Linked DNA regions of Homo sapiens: region 1 is linked to region 2. Evidence: fine-mapped expression QTL. A gene starts in region 2. The other region holds a variant in brackets. All regions are shown on one strand. Distances are between the middles of the regions.

Region 1 (15,273 bases), 610 kb before region 2:
GTCCCTTTTCCACTAGGAGTCGACTTCACATCCAAAGGATTCACAGAGGGCCCCACTAGCTTCAAAACCAGGCACTTTCAAACTTGGTTTTAGCAGCAGAGTCCTTTAGTTATGGGCGATCTGAAACCCCATTATGCAAAACTAAAAACAGACCCTGAAAAACTGCTGGAGTTGAAGCAGAGGTGCTAAGGTCTCTCTTTCAGCTTCTGAAAATACCCTCTGGAAGCCTGGGGTCAGTGCTTAGTTTGAAAAGCAGGATGCTAAGCCATTCTGTAGGGACACTGTCCATTAGCACCACATAGTATGAAGGGGAGAATTTAAACAAGGAACCCCATGACAGTCATGAGAAGAAATCCTGTTGACATATGCCTGCCCCGTGTTAGGTAAGGTGCTGAGTTACCTCCATGCACATATAACCCTCAAAGCTACCTCGTTGGGCCTAGGTGGTTTGACCCCCTCCACAACTTTACAAATGAGGAAACTGAAATTCAGAGGTTAAGCAGCCTGCCCGAGGTCACAGCTAGCATGCAAAGACACCAGGATTCCATTTAGGCACATCTGAATCCAAAGCCCATTGGCTTGACCACTAGGTTGTAAGTAGATGAGGATGCTTGTCATGTGAAACGTGGTACAGTGGAGATTCTGGGAGAATAGGGGAGGTGTCCTAAAGAATATCAATCTCAAAGGGCACCCCAGTCGCAGAGACCAGTGTGGAGGTAGGAAAGTATGGGGAACAAGGACTGCAGTGTAGGGAATAGGTTTGGAGGGAGGGGGGAAGAACTGGAGGTTGAAGTAGGTTGGGTTTTTCAATTCCTTTTTTCACTTTAGGAGGCTGAGGCAGGAGGATCACTTGAGCCCAGAGTTCGAGACTAGCCTGGGCAACATGGTGAAACCCCATCTCTTCAAAAAATGTAAAAACTAGCCTGGTGTGCTGGCACACACATTTAATCCCAGCCACTCGGAAGACTGAGGCAGGAGGATCGCTTGAGCCCACAAGTTCTGTTACAGTAAGCTACGTGCCACTGCACTTCAGCCTGGGCAACAGAGTGAAACCCTGTCTCTAAAAACAAAACAACAAAAAGTTCTCCTGCCTCCCCACCTTCCCACACCGTTCTACTTGGTATTTGCTGGACATCTGTGTTCCTTGCCCAGTGCCAGAGGATACCACACATTAAAAACACAGGCTGGCAGTGTGTTCTGGTGCCAGCAGCTAGGGAGGGCTCTAGAATGGATGCTGAATTCAGTAGTGGCATTGGGGGTGGCTTTAGATGAGCAGGGGGATGAGGAGGACATTGCTGCAGCAGGCCGATGAACTGTGGAATGAAGGCTGCTGTGAGGAGCTGGGTTGGTGGATTGGGAGAAAATGGCATGGGGGCCTTCAGGTGCCAAGAAAAGCCTTGGCTTTGACCCAGATTTTTGAGCAGGGGCTGTGCCCAGGCAAAGGCAGGGAAGATCTCTTTGGGACTTGACCAAACCCCTTTTGGTCTGTTTTCCTTGGGACTGGCACCAAGGCCAGGCAACAGTAATTTCGTTGTTTTTTTTTTTTTTGAGATGGAGTCTCGCTCTGTTGCCCAGGCTAGAGTGCAGTGTTGCGATCTCGGCTCACTGCAACCTCCGCCTCCCAGGTTCAAGCAATTCTCCTGCCTCAGTATCCCGAGTGGCTGAGATCACAGGTGTGCACCATTATGCCCAGCTAATTTTTTGTATTTTTAGTAGAGATGGGGTTTCACCACATTGGCCAGGCTGGTCTCAAACTCCTGACCTCAGGTGATCCACCTGCCTCAGCATCCCTTTGAGACTCTGTCTCAAAAAAAAAATTAATAAACAGTGGTTTTCAAACTGCTCTGCAGCTCCCAAAGAAAGTGGGGAGGGCTCTGCCTTTCATCTTCTTTGGACGCAGGAGCCTAAAGTTGTAGGTAAGATTACTTTTGAAGAGAGTTCCTGGACAAAAGTTTGAAGACCACTGTTCTAGGGTGAACTCCTCATGGAGACAAACATAAAGGGACTTGCCTTGGGTCTTGGTAATGTCTCCAGGCTCTTTCCGCTACACTGAGCTGCGACCCACTTATTTCCGAGAATGCAATAAGGGTATGAAGACAGGCCAGCGTACAGTATACACCCAATTATCAACAAAGAACATGGAATAAATCTTCAATGCTTTTAAGACCTTTAATAATGCCCACGTGCCCTAAGGTTGGCCCTCTTAACTCCCTCAGCTCTTTCTGGCTTTAAGCCATCACCCCAGGTGTGCAGTTTATGTCAGAGGGGGCCATCAGGTAGGGAAACTTATCAGCTGCTCTAAGAGAAAAGGCCGTCCCTGCTATTATCAGTGGGCACAGGCTGGAGCTCAGCCAGCAGGGGCTACAGTCGGGTTACCTGGAGACATGATCCCCTGGTCCTCTGAGGGCCTAGGCAGGACATGGGGGAGGACACGGTCCCCCGGGACAGAGTCCTCTGGCCAGGAGCAGCCTTTCAGGTTGCTCTTGTGTGCTAGAAAAAAATATTTTCTCTATGTGCCATGTCATGAAAAAGACAAAAGCACTGAGTTAATGGGATGTGGAAACTTTAGCCACAGGCTTCTCTGCCTGTGAAGAGAGCATTTCTGCATGTGAACAGCTGGAGCAGGAGGCTGAATGGCAGTGCTTCTCCAGAGACCACAACATCCACCCAGTCACCTGTCCACCTACATTCACCTATCCATCTATCCATCCACTCACCTGCCAAATATTTATTGCATGCTCACTATGCACCAGGCACCATGCTAGATGCCAGAGACAAAGTGAAGACACCCTCAGAGGGGCAGATGCATGGTGGATTTGGGAGACTAAGGCCCAGGGAGTAGTAGGTTCCCCACAGGTACCCAGCACTCAAAGCAGCAATCTCCAACCCTTTGAATGCAAGGACTTTTTTGCTTATCTGTGGTGGCAGATATCACAAAAATTATACACAGACTTTTTTTTTTTTTTTAGCTCATCAGCTATCGTTAGTGTATTTTATGTGGCCCAAGAAAATTCTTCTTCAAATGTGGCCCAGGGAAGCCAAAAGTTTGGACACCTGTGATTTACAGGTTATGCCTAGATCTGAAACAGATCCCCATCCCTCCTAAAGCTGCCCACTGGTTATGGGCCCTGTTTCTCTTAGAAACACCACACACATCATTTGGGAAAAGCACACTGAGTAGAAACATGGCCTGAAAGGGTGGTGGGCGGTGGACCTGGCTTCCTGTGGCCAGAGGTCAGCGGACGATAGAAATGGTCTGATCGGCCACAGCAAAGACTGGGAAGAGGGGCCCCGGGAAGGACACATGATGGGCACAGAGCACTGTGCCGGAGGCTGGCTCATAGAAGAGCAGCTCCTGAACCTGCAAGTCCAGCACTACACCCAGCTGGGCTGGGCCCCGCAGCAGCCCCAGGGGCTCGTGCTGCCCATTGTGTGAGAAACGAAACTCCTGATCATAGCGAGAGAAGACCCAGGAGAAGGCATTGTGGCCCAGACGGCAGTCACTGCCAGAACCCTTGCGGGGCAGGTGGCCTGAAGCCACGCCCACCTTATAGGCACAACTGTTCTGGACATTCACCATCCAGGCATGGAGCCCATTCTGGAAGGAGGTGGCAGCCAGGGCATTGGGCCAGTGGTCGAAGCGCTCCGGGCCATCTGCACAGGCCTTTGACTTCTTGGTGCTGAAGGTCAGGGTCTTTCGATCATCTGACAATTGCAGGAAGGGGCTGACTGTCCTCTCATCGATCCGTATGTCCTCTGTGCCTGCCAGAAAGAATTCTCAGAGTTGCCGAGGGCCCACCCCTGCCCTAACCTGGTCCTGCCAGGTAGCAAAAGGTTCCTCACCACTCACTAGCATGGTGACCTCATATAAGCCATTTACTCTCTCTGAGCCTTGTCTGCAAAACGGGGGTCAAAATAGGACTTCTCACTGGGTGATCACGAGAATTAAACAGAATCATACATGTAAAGTGCCCAGCATGTAAGTGCTCTATAAACTGTAGCCTTCATAACAATAGTTACTATCAGTCAAGACCCTCAACTGTAAACTCTGATAGAAATAAGGCCCAGAGAGAAAAAGGGAGTTGCCCAAGTTTACACACTGACTTGGTGGGAGGGGCAAAATGAAGACAAAACATTTTGTTCCTATACGTAGCACTGATTATACTCTTTCTACTTGGTCATATCTGTGGCCTCCAGATTGGACGTGTCCTAGAAACACAGCCTCTGGGAGCTAGGAAGCATGAGATAAGCAATTTCTAGCAAATATCTAAACTGCTGGTAAATCAGGCATCATTTGATACCAGAATCTAGAGTAGAGAAGCTACAGCTTCTACCAAAATTGTAAGGATAATACGAGGAGGGAGGATTAAAACTGAAAAAAAAAAAAAATCAGTCTATTAACCTAACTGTTCCACGAATTGTGAAAGACTACCATTGGGAGAATGGAAGCTTCCATCTAACTTGGAGGAGGCCTGCTCTGGAGAACCTCTGTGCTAAATGGGAATTCCTGGAGGCAGAAGACCATGTCAGTTTACCTCTGTGGCCCCAGCATGTGGCACAGGGTGGGGCCCACAGTTGGCCTGAGTCAGTGTGTGTAAAGTGAATAAGTGAGGCAAATCAGGCAGTTTGATTCTTGGTCCAGATGTTCTTCAGTTGGCCATCAATTTTATCTTCTTAAAGAGAAACCCCAGGTTTCCAATAAATAATACTGGGCTGCCCTAGTAGGTCAGGATATAAGGAAGACATGACTTATAGGAATGAGATTTATCTTTGACCCAACCACAGAACATGTTAGTCCGGAAATGGGAAGGACTTGGCCCAGCTGCCCCAGGCCTGTCTGGAACCTTGACCCTACTGACCAGCCTGCATCCAGCATGACTTGTTTAAGCTATCATCTCAGAAGCACGGGTCCCCATTGTGAACCAGGAGTGAACCCCAGACAGACAGACAGAAGCCCAGTTGTCCTAATGGTCCTGGGCTCTACTGCTCCTAACCTGAGAGAGACCCAAGAACCGCCGTTGCCCAGAGTTGGGTCAGTAGTGGGCTCCGAGTGCACTTCTCATTAAAGTTTAACATTTCCGACTCCTGGGGATCCAAAATGCCCTCTGCTTCTTCGGTCCTTATATGGGGAAAAACAGAGACAGAGATTCAGGATGGTTCTGGAAATATATCTGGATCAATATGGGGTGAAGAGAAGAACAGAAGTAAAATCTCCTATCAGGCGATACCAAGATTGGCAGCTAGGGCCAGGTGCAGTGGCTCACCCCTGTGACCCTAGCACTTTGGAAGGCCTGATGTGGGAGAGGATCACTTGAGCCCAGGAGTTTGAGACCAGCATGGGCAACATAATAAGACTCCATCTCTACAAAAAATTTAAAAATTAGCTGGGTGTGGTGGCATGCACCTGTAGTCCCAGCTACCTGGGAGGCTGAGGTGGGAAGATTGCTTAAGCCCAGGAGTTCGAGGCTGCAGTGAGCCAAGATCATGCCACTGCACTCCAGCCTGGGTGACAGAGTGAGACCCTGTCTCAAAAAAAAAAAAAAGAGTGGCATCCAGGCCCCACACAGGTGCTTGGGCCAAAAGGGAAGGTGGCCATTTCCCCTGTGCCCCCCAGAAGCCTTAATTTTAGCAAAGCTGGTGGACAGTTTATAGGAAGATGTGTTCTTGGTGCCAGTATTAGAAATTGAAGGTGGTGTGCTCTGCAGAGGAAGCAACTTGCCAGAGTCCCTCAGTAAGTTAATGGCAGAGCTGGGGCTAAGACCTCCTGGGCCTCTGGAACCCCTGCACGATAGTCTTTCTACTCCAACATCTTGCCCTTGCCTGGAAAATATCTCACCTCCCTCTCAGACCTGTTGGGGCAGTCATGTTTCCCTGGGTTTTGTCAGAAGGTACAGCCACTCCTCTACTTTAAAAATGCAAACACCTGAGGGGTCCACAGAGGAAAGGGCCATCAGTTATCACCCCAGCCACAAATGAATCATGGCACTGTGTGCTCTCAATAACTCTCCCCTCAGCTCACAATGGGGGCTGGGTTTTGCTGGAGAGGTATTTTGGGACAATATGATGCCTAGGAGTTGAAAACTGCCATGTATCAGCAGTGAGGGCCTGGGTTTGCTGTTTTCTCTACAGAATCATACCTCAACTTTGCTATAACCTGGGAGGTAGTGGTTATCTGATTTAACAGGACAGAACAGATTCAGAGCTAAAAAGGGGAGCTAGATTCAAGTCATGCCTCCATGCAAAAATAGAACAAAACTGGGATGAAGCCCAGGCAGCATTCAACATAATTTTTTCCTTGACCTGAAGTGAAATCTCAAAGGAATATAGGGCAAAGTAGGGGTTTACCATGGAGCTTTGCAGCCTTTTGACCTAGGTGCTGAGAAAGACCTTTCCTACTGCCTCCAATCCTGAAGATGGCGTTGAGATCAGGCAGTGGTTCCGAGTACACACACTCTCTCCCCATATCTCATGGCTCTGTGCATAAATGGAGTGGGCACAGGGGTGGGGCATGTGCCCTGATGGCTCTTTGCAAGACTGTCACTGTTCTGTCTTGGGAGGTATAAGGTGAACAGAACCTTAGAAATGCTGGGAGCAAGCTCTAGTAACAAAGGCTCTTTGTGGTCAGGACAACAGAGGGTCTATTGCCATCTTCTCAGAACGCAGGAGCTCCCGCCAACAGGTGGGGAAGAAAGAGGAGCTGATGTCAGCGGTGCTAAGCTGTCATCCCAGGGCAAATGTGAGGCTGAACATAGTGAAGTCTACAGCGAACCACCCGGGCTAGCTGCCCTATGGTACCGAAGACAAAACTCATGGCCCCAAAGGGGTGGAAATGAAAAAGGGCCTGAACACAGCAGGCCCTGGCCAGGATCAGAATGCCCAGATGGTGCGGCAGGATCTGCTGCAGTGTCCAGTCAGAGTTGAGCCCAGCTACAAGCGTGGAAACACCAGAGCCAACAAGGCACTTCTCAGATAAGTGAGTTTCCGGCTAGATGGGGCTTCACAACTTTTGAACACTACTTTGAGAGTATATTCGCTCAGCCTGGGGGCATAAAGAACTACAGACAAATCTGGAACTCTATGGATAGGCCTTTCAATAGTAGTATGGGCTTAGCAATGCTCGGACAACTTTGTATGTATTGTAGGACTGAGCAAATACTGATGTTGTTGGGGGCTGGAGTCCTCACTGTAAAATAACAAAAGGTACAAATGTAGAAAGGGAGAGGGCAAAGGAAAAACCTTGAGGTGTTACATTGGAATTAGAATCTGTGATACAGGCTGGGCATGGTGGCTTATGCCTGTAATCCCAGCACTTTGGGAGACTGAGGTGGAAGGATCACTTGAGGTCAAGAGTTCGAGACCAGCCTGGCTAATATGGTGAAACCTTGTCTCCACTAAAATTACAAAAATTAGCTGGGTGTGGTGACACATGCCTGTAATCCCAGCTACTTGGCAGGCTGAGGCAGGAGAATCGCTTGGACCCAGGAGGTGGAAGTTGCAGTGAGGCAAGATTGCGCCACTGCACTCCAGCCTAAGTGACAGAGTAAGACTCCATCTCAAAAAAAAAAAAAAAAAAAAGAAGCTGTGACACAAACTCATGCATCAAACAGCTACACACACACACAC[ACACT/T]CTCTCTCTCTCTCTCTTTCTCTTTCTCCCTTCCTAGTTCCATCTGCTATATGCTGAGTGAGCTGAGTGAGGCCTAGAAGCAAGGTCACTGAGTACCCTTAATGCTCAGATCTTGGTTTCTAAATATCATTCTCCACTAAAAACAACCAGGTGCCCTGGAGAAGCAGCTGATTCAGGGGCAGGAAAAGCACAAGTTGAGCTGGGGTTTTCTTCTTGTGCTTCTTGTGAAAGAGAGCAAGAAAGTGCTCAAAGAATGATGGGAACTTTTCAAAAGGACACAGGGTCCAGCTTGAAAGGGCTTCTACAGGCCAAATCTGGGACAGTCTGAATGTCAAAATTAGTAATAACAGTGACAGATTATAATGCACTGAATAAAATAAGAATCCATCAGTCTGTATTAATATTGAATAAGGGAACAAACAAGCAAATAAAAGGAATAATTCAGGCAGGAGTGACCAATGGATGCTAAAACTATTGGGAGAAAGTCTGAAGGGACACAGGATATATATGCAGAAAGTGTCTCCTCACAGACTGCTTATTAATTATAAAAGGAAAAGCATAACTTTATAATGAGGAAACCTGGCAGACATCCAAGTGCTCAAAATTGACATCCTTGATAACGGACAAAGGGACATCATGTGCCCCCAGATATGATGAACTGAAGACAGATCACTTATGAAGTATTCCTGCTAAAAATGTATAACTTGAATCTAATCATAAGATAACATCAGATAAACCCAACTGAAGGAGATCCTATAAAACTGGCCTTGACTCTTTAAAAATGTTAAAAAAAAAAAAAAAAACAAGCTAAGGAATAATTCTAGACTTAAAAAGACAGCTGAATTAGGAAAACAAAATAAAACACTATTAAGAACTTTTGCACAATTGGCAACAGTTGGATATGGACTGTGTATTAGATTATAGTATTATATCAATGTTAAATTTCCTTAATTTACACTGGGGTGATGTAAGGGAATGTCTTTGTTTCTAGGAGAAACATGCTGAAGTATCTTGAAAGAAAAATTCATGTTTTCTGGAATTTACCCTCAAATATACCATAAAAAAATAAGTTTCTAACATATATACTAGATAGATAAATAGGAAGACAGAGAGAACGAGCGACAATGAATGTGGCAAAATGTCAACAATTGATATTTTCTACGTGAAGCTCGTTATACTACCTTTGCAACTTTTTTCTAAGTTTGAAATCATTTGAATAAATGAATCATTTGAATAAAAAATTAAAGATCAATTAAAAAATCAGATCAGCTTGATATTAAGGACACACTGTATTAAAGGAAGATGACAAAGATAAAGGAGATAGAGAAGATGGGCAGAAGTGTGAAAAGATTGTACAAGGGGAGAAGTGGGAACAAGCCAAGCATGCGTTAGGAGACAGTAAAATAAATATGATCCGTCTACACTGCAATATTTCACAAACTTTCAAAAAAGTGACGTGAATGTAAATGTACTGATGTGGAAAGATGTCCCAGATAGCCTAACAAGTTTCACAACAACAGGTATAAAATGATCCTATCTGTGTTTTGATTTTTTTGTTTTTTTTGAGACAGGGTTTCACTCCCATCACCCAGTCTGGAGTGCAGTGGCAGGCTCTCAGCTCACTATAACCTCCGCCTCCTGGGCTCAAGTGATCCTCTTGCCTCAGCTTCCCCAGTAACTGAGATTACAGGGGTACGCTACCGCACCTAGCTAATTTTTGTATTTTTAATAGGTTTCTTTCGCCATATTGGCCAGGCTGGTTGTGAACTCCTGACCTCAAGCGATCTGCCTGCCTAGGCCTCCCTAAGTGATGGGATTACAGGCGTGAGTCATCACGCCCAGCTTTTTTTTTTTTTTTTTTTTTTTTTTTTTTTGAGGTGGAGTCTCACTCTGTCACCCAGGCTGGAGTGCAGTGGCGCATCTCAGCTCACTGCAACCTCCGCCTCCTGGGTTCAAGAGATTCTCCTGCCTCAGCCTCCTGAGTAGCTGGGACTACAGGCACACACCACCACACCTAATTTTTGTATTTTTAGTAGAGACAGGATTTCACTATCTTGGCCCAGGCTGGTTTTGAACTCCTGACCTCAAGTGATCCACCTTCCTCGGCCTCCCAAAGTGCTGGGATTATAGGCATGAGCCACCGGGCCTAAAAAACATTTTTAAGACAACAACCAAAAAACCGCCACATACCCTCCTATGACTATATATAAGTCCACAAATGCACATCTGTTCAAACCCATCACTGTCAGGGAATAGGATTGGGAAAGGGTAATGCAGACTCATTTTTCTTTTTCTTTTTTCTTTTTCTTTGAGACAGGGTCTTACTCTGTTGCCCAGGCTGAGTGCAGTGGTGTGAGCACAGCTCACTGTAGCCTCAACCACCCAGGTTCAAGTGATGCTCCTGTCTCAGCCTTCTGAGAAGCTGGGACTATAGGCTCTCAGCACGAAGCATGGCTAATTTTTTTTTTGTAGATATCAGGTCTTATTGTATTGCCCAGGCTGGTCTCAAACTCCTAGCTTCAAGCTACCATCCTGCCTTGGCCTCCCAAAGTGCTGGAATTACAGGTGTAAGACACCATGCCCAGCAAGATTCATTTTTCATTTTAAATGGCTTTATATTGGTGGATTTTTTTTCTCTCATGCACATGTATTACTATTGAAACTTCAATATAAAAATAAATAATTTATACCCATTGAAATACAGAAAAATAAGTAAATAAATAAGAAGAATGGACTGTGTTCCCTAAGTATAACTCTGAAATTTCACACAGAAGGTTTGTGAATTACTCTGCCTGGCAAATTATGTCCTCTTGGCCACTTCCTCAGGCCCTCAGCTCTTTTAGAACTCAGGCAGGACCTGGTGAAATTCTTTTATTACTGAAGAGCTAAAATGCAAAATCTGAATGGTAATGCAGACTTAAGTTTCAAAGATTCCTCCATCAGGGAAAGGAGAAGTGAGGCAGAGGCAACAGTACCGGGGCAGGTGTTAGATGGGTCCAACCCCTGGTTCCAGGCTTAGGGAGATCCCTTCCCCTTTTAGAATCTCAACATTTTCATCTGCACATGGAGGTGGTAAAACCCTCCAACAGGGTGACTACCTTTTTACAGAGGAAGTTTAAGAAAGCAGTGGCAAGCCTTGGATTACTAAGTATTCCACTGCCTTTCCATGTGTTTTAAAGCAGTTCTCTAAGCCAAGGGCAGAGACATTCCCTGTCCACAGAGCCAGGCTCCAGAAAAGCCACTCAGCTGCACACCCTGTGCATTCTCCCAAGAGCAGCAGGGCTGAAGGCAGTGGAGTGTGAAGAGGTCTAAGGGTCTCCAAGACTACCCAGTCAAATCACGGGGTCTATACTCACCTCTCGAAAATCTCTTGCTCCTTCTGCTGTGAGAAAAGAAAACAAAGTCAAGCTTGGCACCAGATACCCAGCAGGGAGTCAATGCTAAGACAGATTTAACTACCAGAAAGGGCTCCATGTGGACTCTAGAATAAAAACTTCTAGTCTTTAAGACCAGCATAAAGCTTTCTAGGCTATTCTACACACACACACACACACACACACACACACACACACACACCCATAACACATGCTCAGAATGAATCACTCTACCCCATGTCCCAGGGCATCCTGGATTCCCCTCAACTCCACTCAGGACCATCGCCTGTTCACCCAACAGCATCTCCCATGAAGACTGTTAGCTCCTGGACGGCTGCGACTCTTTCTGAGTCTTCTATTGTGACTGTCCCAGTGTCTGTGAAAGAGCATGCTCTGTCCATGGATGCTGTGACTAAATGAATGCACAGTTTCGAGCAGTCATAGAAACTGCCCTACTTGCAGAGGCAGTGGGACAGCTCAGGTGTTCCACATTCTCTTTCCTCTGCTTGTGACTCAGATGCCACCTTCTCCCCTCAAAACTGCAGGCAGCTGCCTATCTATATAAAATACTTTGAAAGGCTATGTACCAAATATGAATCATGGTGATTTCTGGGTGGTAGGATTAAGGATGAGCTCTGTGTTTTCATATCGAAGACCTTGTCAGCTCCCCGGAGCACAGTGTTCTCTCTACATGCTCCTGAACTCTTTCCACCTCCTCACTTCCTTTGACACAGCTAGTTTTCTTATCTTTCAGGCATCAGCTTCTAAGTCGCTTCATCCGGGAACCTTCCCTGACCCCTCTTTCCCCTAGCCTGGATTGTCCGTCCCTAGCATGGGTGAGTTCCTCTACCATAGCACATATCCTTCCATATCCTAATTGTCAGCCAGTGTATTTGTCTCCTTTGTAAGGCTGGGAGCAGCTGACAGCTGCATCTCGTTACTCTGCCCCATAGCACAGTGCTTCACATATAATAGGCACTCAGTATACAATGACTCACTATCAAAAGAAAACTATTATCAGTGCCAAAGAAACATAGTTTTATTCCCTTGCCTCATGTCAGAGAAGAAATTATTCAATGATACCTGTTAGAGCACAGTAAGGCAGACTTTATTCAAGACCTCATTGCAATGGGGTCTTGCAATGGGAGAGAGACTGGGTTCAACTCTGAATACAGCGTGGGCAGGTAGGAATTTATAGCTAAGGAGCAGGGTTGGGGGTTAGTGGATGGAAAATTACTAAGAGGAAACATTGGGGGTAAGGGGGATTATGGCTAAACCTACCTAACAGGATTCTTGCTGCAGACAGAACACAGTGATCAGACATCACCTAGGGGATGGTGGTGGATGAGGAACCTGATCAGATATCAAGGATGATCAGATATCAAGGATGGGGGTTTCTGGCTACACTGACTTAGCAGGGTTATTTTGCAAAAACTGGATTTTATAATGAAGTGCACAGATGGGCCTGGGAGAAGGCTCAGAAGCCTGACTAAAGTTTGGCCAAGCAAAGAATCTTTGTCACTCATCCCTGCTCCAAATTCTCATTTCCACCCTCCTCATACCGACAAACATTCTCGATATTTTCAGGCTTTTGGGGAGCCTGGCCAACTGGTCATGCCCTCACCCTTGCCTGACTTACAATCAGCTGGAGGTCATCCAGGTGAGTAAGCATGCCCACCAGGCCAGTGCGGATGGTGTCAAGTTTCTGCAGCGCCTCGGCCCAGTGCACCCGCTGTGTCAGGATGCTCTGGTGGGCCCGCTCCTCTTCGCCATGCACCTGTTCCAGTAACCGCTGCTCCTCGCTCTCGCAAAGACTCCTCACCAGACTCAACCGCTGGATAACCAGTTCCCTCGCTGCACTGGCCATGCTCTAATGAGGGATAAAATGAGGAGTTGGGTGGTCTGTGCAAAGCCCCGGTCAGGATTTAAGAGGGTTTAGGCTCAGTGGAAAGGAGTGTTGAGATTGATTAGCAATGTCTGCCACGGGCTTAGTAATGGAAATAATAGCATGTAAGCCTTTTACTTTGACATCTCTGCCCCAAGACTTCCCAAATATGGTTTAGGGTAAAGAAATTTGAGATGCAGACACATAGGCCATATCTCAGGGAGCCATGATCACATAATGGAAGACCTGGGCAGGACTTAGAGCCCAACTAGAATACTCTGCTTAATCACAGTTGGGAATACAAGGTCAAAGGATCAAGGTCAGAGAATCACAGAATTGCAGAGCAGAGGGCCTAAAAAGTCATCCCCATCAGCAGGATCCATACCAGCAGTGGTACAGTTGATATTTCACCATGTTTGAGGGAAAAAACTGATGACTTCCTAAAACTGTCCATTTCAACTGGTTATGTGGTAGAATTTTTATCTGCCACAGAAGAGGCCTGAAATCAATTCTCAGACAATTAACAGGTGTCTTCTTGTAATTCTTAGCACAGTGCCTGGCATGCAGTAGGTACTCAAATATTGACTGAATGGGAAATTTTTTTTTTTAAATTTTTTTTAATAGAGATGGAGTTTCACCATGTTGCCCAAGCTGGTCTCAAACTCCTAGGCTCAATAAATAAGCCCAACTCAGCCCCACAAAGCGCTGGGATTATAGGCATGAGCCACTGTGCCCACCCAGGAAATTTTTTCTGACTTAGTAAAAGATCTCTTCATAGTGCTCACATGGCAATTCAGTAGCAAAGCTGAGACTCGAACCCAATTCTCTTGACTCTCAGTCCAGTCCCATTCCCCTACACCAGATGCCACCTGGCAACCAATCCTTCCCAAAGGCACCTGTTGCATAAGGCAGCTGCACTTGTACTCTTGCCAGACAAGTGGGAATAGAACTGCCTCCTTCATGTCAGAAAGTCAGGGACAGCCAGCAGCTTTCCCTATGCCCTGTCCCTTAAGACCTGCTTTGTACAGTGCACAGGGCAATCATTCCTATTTTACAGAAAACACTGAGACCCACAGTTTGCCTTACAGGGAGGAGAGACTAGCTAAGTGAATGGCAAGTGAACCCAGAAGGTAAGACTCCAAGTTTATAGTGTGCTCTTGAGGCAACATAACATAGTGGTCAGGAAATTAAGCTTTAGAGGTAGTGTGTAGATTTAAATCTTAACTGCTCCGCTCATTAGCTGTGGAACTTAGAACATATTCCTTATCTTCCCTATGCCTCTATTTTCTAATCTGTAAAATGAGGATAATAATAGTACCTACCTCATAAGGCTATAGTGAGGGTTAAATGTGTTAATATATATAAAGTAAGTAGAACAAAGCCTGCTACATTATGTGTTCAATAACATTCATTCACTATTGCTCTTCTTTATCTTTTTTTTTTCTTTTCTTTTCTTTTCTTTAAGAGACACAGTCTTGCTCTGATGCCCAGGCTGAAATGCAGTGGCACAATCATAGCTCACTGCAGCTTTGAACTCCTGGGCTCAAGCGATCCTCCTGCCTCAGTCTTCCAAAGTGCTGGGATTACAGTCATGAGCAACTGCATCCAGCCCACGATTATTCTCCTGTTTATCCCACTTTAATGCCTTACCCACAGGGTGAGCCCCTGAAACCATGGTTGTACTGTGTGATCCTGGATCAAAACAGATCCTCACCCAAGATGAATCAGATTCTGATTCCTGCCTAAAAGACTCTAGTCATTCTCAACAAGTTTGTTGAGCCATTCCCAGAAAAGGAGAGCAAAGAAAAGAAAAACTTCCCTTTCCAAACACATGACAGAGAGTAGACAAACCAAAAACCCTCTCAGAATAAAGTAGAGAAATGCTGGAAAAATAGCCCAAGCATCCTTTTAAAAGTGTGGTTGTGGCTGGACACGGTGGCTCATACCTGTAATCCCAGCACTTTGGGAGGCTGAGGCAGGTGGATCACCCAAGGTCAGGAGTTTAAGACCAACCTGGCCAATAAGGTGAAACCCCGCCTCTACTAAAATACAAAAATTAGCTGGGCCTGGTGGTGGGAGCCTGTAATCCCAGTTACTCAGGAGGCTGAGGCAGGAGAATTGCTTGAAGCTGGGAGGTGGAGGCTGCAGTGAGCTGAGATCGCACCACTGCACTCCAGCCTGGGTGACAGGGCAAGACTCTGTCTCAAAAAAGAAAAAAAAAGAGGTTTTTATTTTTTGTTTTTTGAGACAGGGTCTCGCTCTGTCACCCAGGCTAGAATGCAGTGATGCAATCATAGCTCACTGCAGCCTCAAACTCCTAGGCTCAAGTGATCCTCTCACCTCACCCTCCCAAATAGTTGGGACTATAGGCCCATGCCATCATGTCT
Region 2 (15,273 bases):
CAATATCAAGGAATAACAACCACCAACACCTCCCATTTCTTAAAGGTTCGCTATATACATCACCCACTACTCTACGAACTCGCTGGGTCTTCCTATCAACCCAGTGACATGGGCACATCTGTTATCCCCTTTTCACAGATGAGAAAACTGAGGCTCAGAGACGTTAAACAACTTGCTGTTACCAAGACTCTAAGTGGTGGGGCTGAGATTCAAATCCAGACAACATGATTCCAGCATGAACAACTTTTTTTTTTTTTTTTGAGATGGAGTCTTGCTCTGTCGCCAGGCTAGAGTGCAGTGGCGCAATCTCAGCTCACTGCAACCTCCACCTCCCCGGTTCAAGCGATTCTCCTGCCTCAGCCTCCCAAGTAGCTGGGACTACAGGTGTGCGCCACCATGCCCAGCTAACTTTTTGTATTTTTAGTAGAGACAGGGTTTCGCCATGTTGGCCAGGATGGTCTTGATCTCTTGACCTTGTGATCTGCCTGCCTCGGCCTCCCAAAGTGCTAGGATTACAAGCGTGAGCCACCATGCCTGGCCCGTGTGCACACCTTAAAACAGGAAGTGGAGGGGAAGCATTTCAAGCAGGAGGTTAACAACAGGATCAAGTGTTACCTACCAAGGGGTCAGGCAAAATAAGGACTATAAAGCATCTACTGGATTTAGCAATAATGAGATCACTGAGGACCCTGAAGAACAGAGTCAGAAACTAGGCAGCAGGAGGCTGAGGAGTATGTCAGAGGTCAGGAAGTGGAAGCAAGGGCCGCAAACCTTCTCTTCAGAAAAGTGTATTGTAAAGAGGAGTCACAAAATAGGGCACAAGACCAGGCACAGTGACTCAGGCCTATAATCCAAGCATTTTGGGAAGTTGAGGCAGGAAGATCACTTGAGGCCAGGAGTTCGAGACCAGCCTGGGCAACAAAGCAAGACCTTATCTCCACCCCCACAAAAAAAAGGCACCAGATGGAGGAGAAAAGAACATCATAGCAGAGCTTCCTTTACTCTTTCTCTCTGTGTGTGCACGTGCGCGCGTGTGTGTGTGTTTAATAGAGACAAGTTCTCACTATATTGCCCGGGCTGGTCTTAAACTCCTGGGCTCAAGCGATTGTGTGTGTATGTGTGTGTGTGTGTGTGTGTTTAACAGAGACAAGGTCTCACTATATTGCCCAGGCTGGTCTCAAACTCCTGGCCTCCAGCAATGTTCCTGCCTTGGCCTCCCAAAGTGCTGAGATTACAGGCAAGAGCCACCACGCCCAGCCACTCTTTCTGTGTTTTAAAAATCAGAGCAACTTGGCCAGGCATGGTGGCTCACAACTGTAACCTCAGCATTTTGAAAGGCTGATGCGGGCAGATCGCTTGAGCTCAGGAGTTCGAGACCAACCTGGCCAACATGGCGAAACCCCGTCTCTACCAAAAACACAAAAATTAGCCAGGCGTCAAGACCAGCCTGGCCAACATGGCGAAACCCCATCTCTACCAAAAACACAAAAATTAGCCAGGCATGGTGATGCGCGTCTGTGGTCCCAGCTACTCAGGAGGCTGAGGCAGGAGAATCTCTTGAGCCCAGGAGGCAGAGGTTGCAGCGAGCCAAGATCGTGCCACTGCACTCCAGTCTGGGTGACAAAGCCAGATACTGTCTCAAAAAAAAAAAGAGAGAGCGCAACTTGAGCATGTTTAAATATTGATGGGAGTGAGCTGGTTGAGAGGGAGTCCAAAGATACAGGGGTAAGTCAGGAGGCCAAACAGAGCAGGGTCTCCAAGAGGATGGGGGGTGGCAGGTGGGTCTACACCCTCAGTCAGCCTTAGACTCTCTCCTTGGAACAAGGGCCAGAAAGAAAACATGGCTATGGAGTCAGATCATTCTGAAATTTGAAGAAGGGAAGTTCCTTTCTGGTGGCTTCCATCTTCTCTAAGGTGGAAGGTGAGGCAATCAGCAGAAGGAAGGGTGGAGTAGAAGGGTAGAGGGTATGAGGAGCAGAGAAAAGTTTCAGATAAGCCACTGTGCAGACGGAGGGTCTGTGGAAAAGAAGGAGTGTCCAGGACCACTGAAGCCCCAGCTGTGGCTGAAACCTGTGAACTTACATTGGCAGCAACCCTTGAGCTTCCTGAGAACCCTGGTTGTAGATGAAAGACATGAACAAATGGAATGATCCAAGCTGGGTATAAAAAGAAGAGAGCAAGGGAACTGAATATAGAGGCAGGAGCAACCACGGAGATGGGCCACAGAATCTAAAGGAGGTAGGGGAATCCAAGAGGTCACAGAACAGAACAGGTATAGTCAGTTGTTAATGACTCAGAGACCTGGAAAGCCAGGACGGGAAAGCAAGACAAAATGATATACGCGGGGAAAAGGGAACTTTTGTACAACGCTGTTAGGAATGTAGATTGGTACAGCCATTATGGAAAACAGTATGGAGGTTTCTAAAGACATTAAAAATAGAACCACCATATGACCCAGCAATCCCTCTTCTGGGCACATACCCAAAGGAACTGAAATCAACACCTCATAAAGATATCTGCACTCCCACATTCACTGCAGCATTATTCACAATAGCCAAGATATAGAAACAACCTAAGCAGGCCTCAATGGACGAACAGATAGAGAAACTGTACTGTGTGTGTACACACAAAACTGAATATTATTCAGCCCCAGAAAAGAATGACATCTTGTCATTTGCCATAACGTGAATGAGCCTGAAGGAAATTATGCTAAGTGCAACAAGCCGGACACAGAAAGAAAAACACTGAGTGATCTCACTTACATATGGAATCTTTAAAAAAATTCAAATATATAGAGAAAGAACACAAAATAGTGGCTACCAAGGGCAGGTGGGAGAGGAAATGGGAAGATGTAGGTAAACGGATACAAAATAGCAGATATGGAGGAGTGTACAAGTCTGGAGATCTAATGTAGAACATGAGGACTAGAGTTATTAATAATAAAATTGTACTGTACTTGACAATCATGCTAAATGAGTCAATTTAGATGCTCTTGCCACAAAAACAAAATGAGTTAACTATGAGATGATGACTGTGTTCATTTGCTCCACTATAGTAAACTTTTACTATCTATGTGTATCCCATAACATCAAGTTGTATACCTTAAATAAACACAATAAAATGTGATAATATCCAGTGGCACTATTTCAGAGCTGGAATGCTTCTAGGTATTACAACGCAGGGTGCGGCCGTGGGAGAGAGCAGATGAACTGTTAAAAAGGTGAAGGAGCCGAGCGCAGTGGCTCACGCCTGTGATCCCAGCACTTTCAGAGGCCGAGGCAGGCGGATCACCTGAGGTCAGGAGTTCGAGACCAGCCTGGCCAATATGGTGAAACCCCGTCTCTACTAAAAATACAAAAATTAGCTGGGCGTGGTGGTGGGCACCTGTAGTCCCAGCTACTCAGGAGGCTGAGGCAGGAAAATCGCTTGAACCCTGGAGGCAGAGGTTACAGTGAGCTGAGATCGCAGTGAGCTGAGATCGTGCCATTGCACCACAGCCTGGGCAACAGGGCAAGACTCCATCCCAAAAAAAAAAAAAAAAAAAAAAAAAAAGGATGATTACAGATAAGGAGGTCAAGAAACTGGTAATTTTGGAGAGTTGGACAGATCAGCCATGTGAATGATTAAAGCCCCGTGGTGAGGACATGATTTCAGAAGACAGTAAGTTGGGGTCTAAAGATTTAATGAATGAGAGTGAGAAGGTGTGAAGTTGGAAAATGACAAAGAAAACAGTATTGGAAGGTCTGTAGTGGATATTTGTTTCCTGCTTGTCTAACATTTCTTGATTTTGCTCTGGCAACCACCTCCTCCCTTCCCAGGCACAGAGGGGGCTTCCAAAATATTTGTAATATTCTGTATCTTAATCTGGGGGTAGGAACATTTTATTAGTCTTTAAACTGTACAGATAACTTTTACTCTTTATATACACACATTGTTATAAACTTCATGTATATATTCCCCAATTTTAAAAAAATTCCTTTCCTCATTCCAAAGATAAGTACCTGATTCAAGTCTGCGCAATCAGAATCAGAGACTGGTTTAGGCGCCTGACCCAATTTAGACCAATGAGACACCAGCCCAGAGCTTTGGCCAGAACTATCAGGAAAGGAGTGCTCTCCTTCTGCTGGAGCTGGGAAGCTTGTTTATAGAACATATCCCTTCACTGGCATGAGAACAAGGCTGACACAGAAGAAAGCAGAGCCAAGAGATGGAAAGTGACAGATCCCCGACATCACTGGAATACCTTGCTCCAGCCATCCCTGAAGCCAAAATACCTGGGCCTTTTCAGCAACGTGAGCCAGTAGATTTTTATTTTCCTCTATCTAGTTTGCATTCAGCTCATGTCTTTTTAACTAATAAAGAATCCTAACTAATTCAGGGGAATGCTCAAGGTAGTCTCAATTGAACAGCCTATGTGATCCTTTTCAATATATAATCAAACTATGCCCCCCTCCTGCTCAAGACCCTGAAATGTCCCCTGCCCATGTTAACTTCCCACCCCATGGCCCTAGCAATAAAGGCCAAAGTCCTCAGGGTGACCGGCCACATTCAATATAATCTGACCCCTCCCTTCTCTGCCCCCAGCCTTTAACTCTCCAATGCTCACTCTACCTGGCCACACTGGCCTCTAGGCTGCTCCCCGACACACCAGCCCTGTGCCTTCCGGCCTCTGCTTCAGGCAGTCCCTCCCCGGACAGTCTTCTTCAGATACTCACCCACTAACTCCCTCACCTCCTTCCAGTCTGCTCAAATATCAAGTACTCAACAAGGCCTGCCAAATCCTCTTCCTCGCGGCCAGTTCTCCTTTTTCCTCCTTCCATGGCATTTATGGTGTAATACAGTACAAACTTGCTGAAATGTATCCAGTGAGGGCAGGGTTTTCAGCTAATTTATTCAAGTTCCTAGAACAGTGCCTGGCTCATAGTAGGCCCTCAAATATGTATCAAATGAACAAAAAGAATGACAGGAGCCTCAAAGGAGCAGAGCCTGGTTTGTAAAAGGTGATGGAGGAAAAGCCTTCTCTATTTTGAAGACTTCAGAGGACGTCTAAGTGACCTAAGGAGGCAGGAAGTAGATGAAGAGTTCAGAGAAGAGATTGAGGATGTGGGAGGAGGTGTTAGCCACACAATGGGGCTTAAGAATCCAGTATTAAGTTTTGGGAGGGGTACAGAAGTTAGAGGCTGAGTCAGAGGAGAAGCAGCCTGGAGCAATTTACAGATGAAAGTTAAAAAAGGAGAGTAAGGCTAAGTGATGTATTTACATTTTAGATGGAGATAGCCATATAAGGTCCAGTGAGGCTCACGCCTGTAATCCCAGAACTTTGGGAGGCAGAGGTGGGCAGATCATCTGAGGTCAGAAGTTCGAGACCAGCCAGGCTAACATGGTAAAACCCCATCACTACTAAAAATAAAAAAATTAGCCAGGTGTGGTGGCAGTCACCTGTAATCTCAGCTACTCAGGAGGCTGAGGCAGGAGAATCACATGAACCCAGGAGGGAAAGGTTGCAGTGAGACTGCACCACTGCACTCTAGCCTAGGCAACAGAGTGAGACTCCATCTCAAAAAAAAAAAAAAAAAAAAAAGGCCCAGTGAGTTTAGCAGGCATCAAAAGAATTAGTCCTGGCAACCTCTGGTAGATAGAAAGGATTCCTCCTTTGGGAGCCTATGAAGGGAGGCATCACACCATGATTTGAACAATTTGAGAAATTGGTGGAGAGTCCATCATATTCAGTCTTTCTCTTCTACCCAAGCACTACAGAGTTCATTCACAAGCGTCAGCTGGACCAAGACACCAGGCTACCCTGTTCATCGCACCATCTTGGGCCCTCAGAAAGCAATTCCCCTTTGCATAATAACCCTGTACTATGACCAGCCTGTCAAACCTTCATTCCCCTGGCCCAGAACTGACGCAGAATCCCTGTCATCCAGGATCACAACCCCAGTATCTAACAAGACAAAACTGGCTTCTTTTCAAAGACAGACCATAGCACTGAACTGTCCTAACACCCCTCTGATGACCCTCATGCTGCTGAGGTAGGAGAAAGCCAGCCACAGGGAAGGCTTCCTTCTTCTGGCTCTGACTCACCTCTGTGGCTTGCTAGCTTCTCTCTACAGAAATTTCTTCAGAGTTATGAGACCATACGTGTATGCCAAGATTCAAGGAAAATGTTACTCCTAGTCAGAGAAAGAAATTACAATGCTTAGCCTCTAAGGAAAAGTGGCTTACTATAAATCAGGCCCTTGAGAATGGTGTCATTTAGATGCTCCCCACAGCTGTTAGGAGATTCATTAAATATTCAATAATTAGGCCAGGCACAGTGGCTCATGTTTGTAATCCCAGCACTTTGGGAGGCCGAGGAGGGCAGATCACTTGAAGCCAGGAGTTCGAGACTAGCCTGGCCAACATGGCGAAACCTCGTCTCTACTAAAAATACACAAATTACCTGGTCAAGGTAGCACACGCCTGTAATCACAGCTATACGGGAGCTGAGACACGAGAATCACTTTGACCAGGGAGGTGGAGGTTGCAGTGAGTCAGGATCAGGCCACTGCGCTCCAGCCTGGGTGACAGAGTAAGTCTCTGCTCAAAAAAATACATATATATTCAATAATTAATAATGCCTTCAAGACTCTCCCTCCTACACAGAACAGACCCTTTAAAGGAAGCCATCGGTAATTAGACTTGAGACTGACTTCTTCACCACTAACCAGATCTTGGTGGTACGGGGAATTTGTCTTCCAAGTGCTTATTAGTAAAATGCTCATACTTCTGAGTCAGGTATCATCCATGAGTGAATCGTTAGGTAAATATTTTAAATGGCTATCTGTAGTAGCCAGTCTCCAAGATGGCCCAATGATCCCCACCTCTTGGTATACACACCCTGATATTCACACCCTCTCCCCACATTGTACCAGTGTCAATCTGTGTGACCAACAGAATACAGCAGAGGCATGTCATTTCCAAGATAAGTTATACAAGACTGGCTAGAGTCTTGAGCTCTCTTGGATCACTTGCTCTGGGGGGAAAAACCAGTTGCCACATCAAACAGCCCTATGGAGAGTAACTAAGACCTGCCAACAGCCATGTGAGTGAGCTTAGAAGTGGATCCTCCCCTAATCCAGCCTTCAGATGACTGCAGCCCAAGCCAACAACTTGACTGCAACCTCAAGAAAGGCCTAATTCAGAACCACTCAGATTGTCCCACAGACACTATTTCCAGGTGATAAGTTTTGGGGTAATTTGCTACACAGCAATAGATAATTAATTCAGTGTCCCACACAGAACTGAGAAGGAAATGAGGTTTAACCCCCAGTTCCTACACTATTTTAAGACCAATTTTTGTCGATAAGAAAGCAAATTTATTCAGTTATTCAACATTTTTTGGAGACAGGGTCTCACTCTCTTGCCCAGGCTGGAGTACAGCGGTGCAATCATAGCTCACTGCAGCCTTGAACTCCCAGGCTCAAGCAATCCTCCCGCCTCAGCCTCCTGAGTAGCCTGGATTACAGGTGCATGCCACCATGCTGTGTGCGTATGTGGAAACGGGGTCTCGATATGTTGCCCAGGCTGGTCTCAAACTTTTGGTTCAGAGCAATCATCCCACTTCAGCCTCCCAAAGTGCTGGTATTACAGGTGTGAGCCACTGCACCTGGCCTCCATTAGCTTTTTTAATTTTCCTGTTCCTAATGCTTTGGAACTTCACTCCCTGCTTTCACAAACCCTCTGCAGAAGGTACATCAAGTCGCACTCTCTAGTGATTTTAAGTGCTCAGTGACCTTCTGACTGCAAGGAGGGCAGGTTATATTTTCTCATACTCCTTTTTCACTGTACCACATGGTGTCCCCTCTAACGGGAGAAGAAAGTTAGGTCCCCTGCTCCCATTAATATTGGGACAAGGGGGAATTCATTTAGTATTTTACTAGGGAGAGAAAATCTTGATCACAAGACCTGAGAACAATTCTAATTTCTGCAGTTAGTGACTAAGTGACGGCAGGAGCGGGGATACAATCACTGCTCAAGTCTCCTTCACAGCTGAAATGGCCATGGGGGTAGGGAGGAGGTCGTCCCTTACCCCTGCCTGGACTCTGCTGTCTCTCCAAGCAGCAGGAGGGTTGTGCTGCTCTAAGAAAATCTGGAGCCTCCCTCCGTACAAAGAAGGTCAAAGGGCGAGCTTTCTTTCCATCAACCACAAAACCAGCCTCTGCCAAACCTAAACAGAGTGGTAGGCCGTCGGAGGTGAATGGAGCCCCAGACAGAAAACCACAACGAGGCTCTCCTCCCGCCGCCGGCTGGGGTCTGAGTCAGGTGACTCCTCAGGACAAACAGCAAACCTAAACAAAGATCACTCCCCACATGACTGACTAGGGGGAAGAAGACTCTCGCTGTAAGCCCAGGGCTGCCCGGTCCCAGCACGGAAAGCCAGGAACTCCTGCTTTCTGTGCAGTCTCGGAAACTGGAGGAGCTACAAGTTATGCAGCAGCTCAGCCTGCAGGGATGCACCTGGAGGAACTCGGAACCCCATCCGAGGACACAGGCGCCCTGCCCTGAACACACGCCTCCCGCTCCAACACGCAGGCTGGACCCCTCCCCACCAGCTGTCACCGGTGCTTGCGACCAGTCACAGGCAGCGAAGCCTGTCCCTCTGCGGCTGCGACCCCGCGGAGGCGGCAGAGGAGACGCTTCGCCGAGGGCTCCGGGGCCAGGACACGCCCGTCCCCCGGGAAGGGGCGGCAGGGTGGGCGCGGCCCCAGGCCCACGAAGGCTCCGGATCCATCATCCCCCCCACGGGGAGCGAAATAAGCCTCCCACTCCCCGGCCCCAGGCGCCCCACCTTGTCACCGAAGCTGCGGGCCATCAGCAGGTCCGGGCTGGGCGTGCTGTCACCACCCACGGCCTCCTCGCTGCTGGAGCCGGCCAGCGGGTGCGGCATGTCGCGCAGGGAGTGGGGCCCCGTGGACGGCAGGGCCTTGGGGGGCCCGCCCGCCATGGCGCGCACCGCTCGGGACGCGCCGCCGCCGCTTCCTCCTGCTGCCCGCCGCGGCGAGCTCCCCGAGCACCCCGGGCCGAGCCCCGCTCGGCCGCCGCTTAACCCGAGGCCTTGCACCGGCCGTGCTGGGGGCCGCCGCCACCCGCCGGCTGGTCTCTGCCGGCGCTCAGACGCTCCGCTCCGCGCCGCGCGCCCCCGCTCCGCGCCCGAGCCCGCCGCGGGTCCGCTGGCAGCACGGCCGCGGCGCCCAGCCCACACAGCCACACCGCCCACCCGCTCCGGCCCCGCCCCCGAGGCGCCGCGGCCGCCCGGGAGGGGGCGGGGAGGGCGGGGAAGGGGCACGTGGGGAAGGAAGGACGGAGGGAGGGAGGGAGGAGGCGCGGCCCCGCCCCCGCCCGGCAGGAAGTGCGCCCTGGGCCTCTGCGGCTGTCCTCCCAGTGTCCAACGTTGCCTCGCGGAGGCCGCCGTGCGGAGCAAATGTCTAACGGAAATCAGAGGTGGAAAAGAGGTTGGAGGAGCCTGTTCCGTTCCACCCGCGTTTACTGATGCGCCCACCAGCAGCCACGCTTGGGGCTGGGGGCTTTGAGGACACGCACGTGAGTCAGGGTCTTCTGGCCTCTAAGGCACGCGCAGGAAGAACCCTAGATAGACGGAATTACGACCCATATCGGAAGAATAGCATAAAGGGCGACAAGGCTCAAATGAGCTAGAGGACATCGGGTGGGGAACCTGGAAGGGACTTCAAAGAGGCGGTGTGGGGAGTCTTCAGGCTCACTCTGAGGTCCCCATTGTGGCTTGCTTCTGCAGCTGAGCTGGATTTGTGTAAAGTCAAACCTCAGAACAGCGAGCATGAGTAGAGAGTCTCAAATGATATGCGACTCTTCAACTCACACTTTGGCCGAAGAGACTTTTGAAAGAACCATGAGGTTCAAGTTATTCTTCATGCATTTGTGCTTCCTTTCCAGGCCTTGGGCTGAGCTGATTCTCAGCTTTATTTGCTGGCGTGGTGCAAATAGTCAAGGTGTTACTTCCAGCCCTTTGGGGTGTAGGTTCACCTCCTTTTTCCACCTTACCTGTCCCTAGATCTTCTGTTTCCAAGGCCAAGTCTTTAAAGGGTTTTCAGTCCCTCTAGCAAAGTAATGGGTAGGGAGGCTCATCGTGAGGGACCACATTTTCCCTACCCATTCCAAACTCAAAGGTTTGCCTAGCCTTACCTGCTAAAAGGTGATGACAGATGTTGACTCTGGGATTCACTAAGGCCTCTACCACAGTTTTCTCTAGAAACAAATAGAAGAGAATGCAGAGGGTTGAAATCTACCCAAAATATCAGTCAGAGACTCTGAGCTTCAAAGACCTTCCCCTATTTCCCCCAATGTAATTTATATAGGGTTGGACCCTTAGTCCTCAAGCTATCATCTTTATCTCCTCCACATAAGCCTGCCTTGGCTGGGAAAAGTAGCATTCAAAGGGCACTGGGAACAATTTTAAATGCTGCATCTAAGGAATGCCAAGTTCTGGTCCTCTTGGAGTTGGATTAAAATTGTTAACACTTTCACATTCAAGGGCTGCTTACAACTACTACAGACCCTATTATCTGTTCTTCTGAATTAGCATGAAAATGAATAGCACAATATAACTAGAAATGAGTATTTCTAGAAATGAGTATATACATCTATAGATGTATAACATCGGTTTTTCTTATTGAATGGTGCTACTTATTTTAACAACCAGGCTGCCTTAAATATAATGGACATCCGTATGGATTAAGACTCTATACAAGCTTTCTCTTTAGTACACCAGGGGAAAGTGAAAAAAGAACCACATTTGAATTCGGCTTTGTCACTACAAGTGGGTGACCATGAGCAAGTTACTAACCTCAGTGAACCTGTTCCTAACCTAAAAAGGAGGAGAATGGAGAGCAGGTAATAATACCTTATGAGATGGTTGTGAGAGTTATATAGCATTCTTTATGTCATAGTCCTAGCAAAGTGCTGGCATAAAATAGGTGCTCCCTAAATGTTAATTACCTACCTTCCTTTCCCTTTCTGTCAGATTTTCTCTACTATTCTTATGAAATAATAAAGAGTTTTTGTAATTAAATATGCTTTACTATTCTGAGTAGGGTCTGGTTGAATATACATATATATACACACACATACACACCAGGTAGGGTGCCTCACACCTGTAATCCCAGCACTTTGGGAGGCCAAGGTGGGAGGATCACTTGAGCCCATAAGTTCAAGACCAGCTTGGGCAACATAGTGAGAGCCCCATCTCTATAAAAAATGTAAAAATTAGTCCGGCATGGTGGCACATACCTGTAGTCCCAGCTACCCAAGAGGCTGAGGTGGAAGGATTGCTTGAGCCTGGGAGGTTGAGGGTGCAATGAGCTGAGATTGCACCACTGTACTTCAGCCTGGGCAACAGAAGGAGACCTTGTCTCAAAATAAAAAAAAATATATATATATATACATATATATGTGTGTGTACATATATATGTGTGTATATGTGTGTGTGTGTGTGTGTGTGTGTATTGACCTCCAAAGTCCTCCATTTGCTCAGTTTAGATTGGAGTACCACTTTTCTATGCTCCCACCAAAAAAAGGACCCAGACCCAGAGTTCCTAAAAGGCCATATGAAATAGTTGATTACAGTTTATTTATTTATTTTCCAGTTTCCTGGTTGGTCGATAGCAGCTGGCCACAATATCCAGTGGGTAGTCATCAAAACTAAAGAAAGTGAATTTGTATGGAAAGTATTTTGGTAGAAAGTTTCCACGATGAAATTTAGCCCAGCCCTGCCCATTCATATTCACCATTTCCTGTGGTATTTCAGTGTTCCTTGTGGTGGGAAATTGTCACTGAAATAATATAAGTGTCCCAGAGCATGTGACTTTGCTTCTACTAAAAGGTTTTGTTTTTTTTTTTTTTTTTTCTTGGAGACAGGGCCTTGCTCTGTCGCCCAGGCTGGAGTGCAGTGGCGCAATCTCAGCTCACTGCAACCTCCGCCTCCCAGGTTCAAGCGATTCTCCTGCCTCAGCCTCCACAGTAGCTGGGATTACAGGTGTGTGCCACCATGCCCGGCTAATTTTTGTATTTTTAGTAGAGACAGGGTTTCACCATGTTGTCCAGGCTGGTCTCAAACTCATGACCTCAAGTGATCTGCCTGCCTTGGCCTCCCAAAGTGCTGGGATTACAGGCTACTAAAAGTTTTAAAAGCAGCATGGTGGTAAGGAGGAAACGTGTAACGTTTCTCCATCAGAGCAGAAGGCTGTGGTGTTTGTTGGAACTTATGGAGGGAAGCTTGGATTTCTAGGGTTGAGCTCTGAGGAAGATAGTAGATGTATGTGTGTGCATGAGGGGCGAGGGAGGTCCCCAATGCCACCAGAACCCAAGAACACAGCATGGAGCCCTCCCAATTCATAAGGAATCTTAGACACTTAGGCTGGCACCTTTCAGGAGACAGGGCTTTGGGCCCCAGAATTTAGTACGCTTACCAAACAAATCCTATCGACCTCACTAGCAAGCGTATTGGGGCTGCCTGTGAGCACCCAGACCTCAGAAACAAAGCAGTCTCAATGCATCATTCGCTCATTCTTTCCCCTGGTACAGCATGTGCTTAGGCCTTCTTCATGTTTGTGTTAGCCGCTTATCCTCTGGTGGTTTTTAGTACAATCATAGCTTTATTCTATATGGCATCCCAAGCCCTGCCTCAGAATAACACCACCACTTCTGAAGTGGACGGCTGGTGAGGACAAAGGACGTTTTCAGAGAGCATTCAGGATGACATGTCGCAAGCCACAGAGGGCTGTATCAAACAAGGGGGGCAAGTGAGAAGGCACAATCCCCAACAGAGACAAAATTGTGTGGACAATTTAATTCAGCCAATGATGTCCCAGGAAAGAAACAAGGTCCACTTGAGTCCAGGATCTGAACAGTTTTGCTAACAAGAAATTGGAACTTGCTACTGAACCAGCAGAGGGGCTTGTGGGTGAATGATAGCATCATTTTATCTCTCCATATAGAAGAGCTCCTGGCTTGCAAAGCATGGAGACCCTGATGCAGTGAGTTATACAGTACAGTCATGGAGTTAGTGTTCCAAATCTCAAACTTTGGGTGCCTAACAATCAATTGTGAGCTTGTAAAAATGCAAACTTCTGGGCCCCACATCAAGAGATTCTGCTTCTGGAGTGAGGCCTGGAATAATTTTTAATTTAAATTAATTTTTAATTTAAAAAGTGTTAATCTCCTAGGTGATGCTTACGCTGATGCTGGTCTATAGACTATATTTTGAGAAACACTGTTCTCTTAGCTCCTTCCATTTCTCTTGCTCGCTCTCTCTCTTTTAACCTAGCATCAATCCATCAAGATCCTTCCATTTTTCTTTTCGTTGTTTTTTTTTTTTTTTTTTGAGACAGAGTCTCACTGTGTCACCCAGGTCGGAGTGCAGTGGTGCAATCTCGGCTCACTGCAACCTCCACCTCCTAGGTTCAAGCAATTCACCTGCCTCAGCTTCCGGAGTAGCTGGGATTACAGGCGCACACCAGCATGCCCAGCTAATTTTTGTGTTTTTAGTAGAGATGGTGTTTCGCCATGTTGGCCAGGCTGGTCTAAACTCCTGACCTCAGGTGATCCGCCTACTTTGGCCTCCCAAAGTGCCGGGATTACAGGTGTGAACCACCGTGCCAGCCTTTCTCTCTCTCTTTTAACCTAGCATGAATCCATCCAAATCCTTCCATTTTTCTTTTCTTTTTTTTTTCTTTTTTTTTGAGACAGAGTCTCGCCCTGTCGCCCAGGCTGGAGTGCAGTGGTGCAATCTCAGCTCACTGTCGCCACTGCCTCCTGGGTTCAAGCGATTCTCCTGCCTCAGCCTCCCGAGTAGCTGGGATTATAGGCGCGCACCACCACGCCCAGCTAATTTTTGTATATTTAGTAAAGACAGGGTTTCACCATGTTGGCCAGGCTTGTCTTGAACTCCTGACCTCAAGTGATCTGCCCACTTTGGCCTCCCAAAGTGCTGGGATTACAGGCGTGAGCCACCACTCCCAGCCAAGATCCTTCCATTTTTCTAAACTATAAATTGACATTCCAAACCTTTAAGTGCTTACTTTAAATAAATATCCTGTTTGAAAACTTGCTTAGAAAGCAATTTTCTATTAGAAAATTACATTACAAGGTCCTTTTGCTCCTAAACTTTTATGATTATTTTAGTGAGCATCTACCAGGCGCTTAAAATATAAGGGAAGATTGAGGTGATGGATATCCCATTTACCCTGATGTGTTATTATGCATTGTATACCTGTATCAAAGTATTTCATGTACCCCATAAATATATATGCCTACTATGTGCCCACAAAAAATATTAAATTAAAAAAAAATTTTAAGAAAAGAGCTCAGATGAACTAACCTATTTGTTGATAATTTTTTTTTATTGTTGTTATTGTTGTTGTTTTTAAACGGAGTCTCGCTCTGTCACCCAGGCTGGAGTGCAGTGGCGCGATCTCAGCTCACTGCAAGCTCCACCTCTTGGGTTCATGCCATTCTCCTGCCTCAGCCTCCTGAGTAGCTGAGACTACAGGCACCCACCACCGCACCCGGCTAATTTTGTTTTTGTATTTTTAGTAGAGACGGGGTTTCACCGTGTTAGCCAGGATGGTCTTGATCTCCTGACCTCGTGATCCACCTGCCTCGACCTCCCAAAGTGCTGGGATTACAGGCGTGAGCCACCGTGCCCGGCCAATAGTTTCATTTCATAAGTCTGGTCATGAAGTAGATCACAGAGGAGTGGATACTTTCCAGAGCCCTCAAAACCTTGGCCTACCCTGAAGGCTCCTAGTAGCTGGGCCACATCTGGCTATAGAAACACCTTTCACTGCCATCACTGAAGGATACGTGCTACCTGGCTTTCTTTACAAGCAGGCACAGGTGTATGGAGTTTGGGCATGGATGTGTATTCCTTTGTGAGGGCTACCCATTAGAGAGGTTGGGCTGGAGAAGATATGGAACTGACAAGTACTGGAACCACGGGCACTGAGTCTTATTAACAGTGATTCTTTGGATAGAATGGAAAACCTACTTACTGGCTGTGTGCCTCCATGAGAGTGTTTGATTCCATCACGAGGAGTGATCCTTAAAAGGCATCTGAAGGCTGGGTGCGGTGGCTCATGCCTGTAATCCCAACACTTTGAGAGGCCAAGGCGGGTGGATCACCTGAGGTCAGGAGTTTGAGACTGGCCTGACCAACATAGTGAAACCCCATCACCACTGAAAATACAAAAATTAGCCAGG

Evidence for each region. PIP is the estimated chance that this variant, and not a neighbour inherited with it, causes the effect.
Region 1: its variant is fine-mapped to the expression of SNX30-DT in naive CD8 T cells (Schmiedel 2018, PIP 0.95).

The regions. Positions count from the first base shown.
Region 1 is chr9:113,358,105-113,373,377 of GRCh38, reverse strand. It overlaps BSPRY (B-box and SPRY domain containing), which reads right to left. Exons shown (of 6, transcript NM_017688.3): 3 at 12,641-12,871; 4 at 10,984-11,009; 5 at 4,995-5,119; 6 at 2,156-3,762. The coding sequence ends at 3,236. Among named protein-coding and RNA genes, the nearest start is that of HDHD3, 11 kb to the left of the region's middle. RefSeq lists enhancers at 2,959-3,459, 3,460-3,960. The variant ACACT/T (reference allele first, on the strand shown) is at 7,624.
Region 2 is chr9:112,744,715-112,759,987 of GRCh38, reverse strand. It overlaps SNX30-DT (SNX30 divergent transcript), which reads left to right and starts at 9,423. Exons shown (of 1, transcript NR_186503.1): 1 at 9,423-11,104. It overlaps SNX30 (sorting nexin family member 30), which reads right to left and starts at 9,228. Exons shown (of 9, transcript NM_001012994.2): 1 at 8,831-9,228. The coding sequence starts at 8,986. RefSeq lists enhancers at 4,181-4,794, 5,247-5,336, 4,795-5,409, 7,540-8,459, 8,460-9,381 and 1 more and a silencer at 8,651-9,470.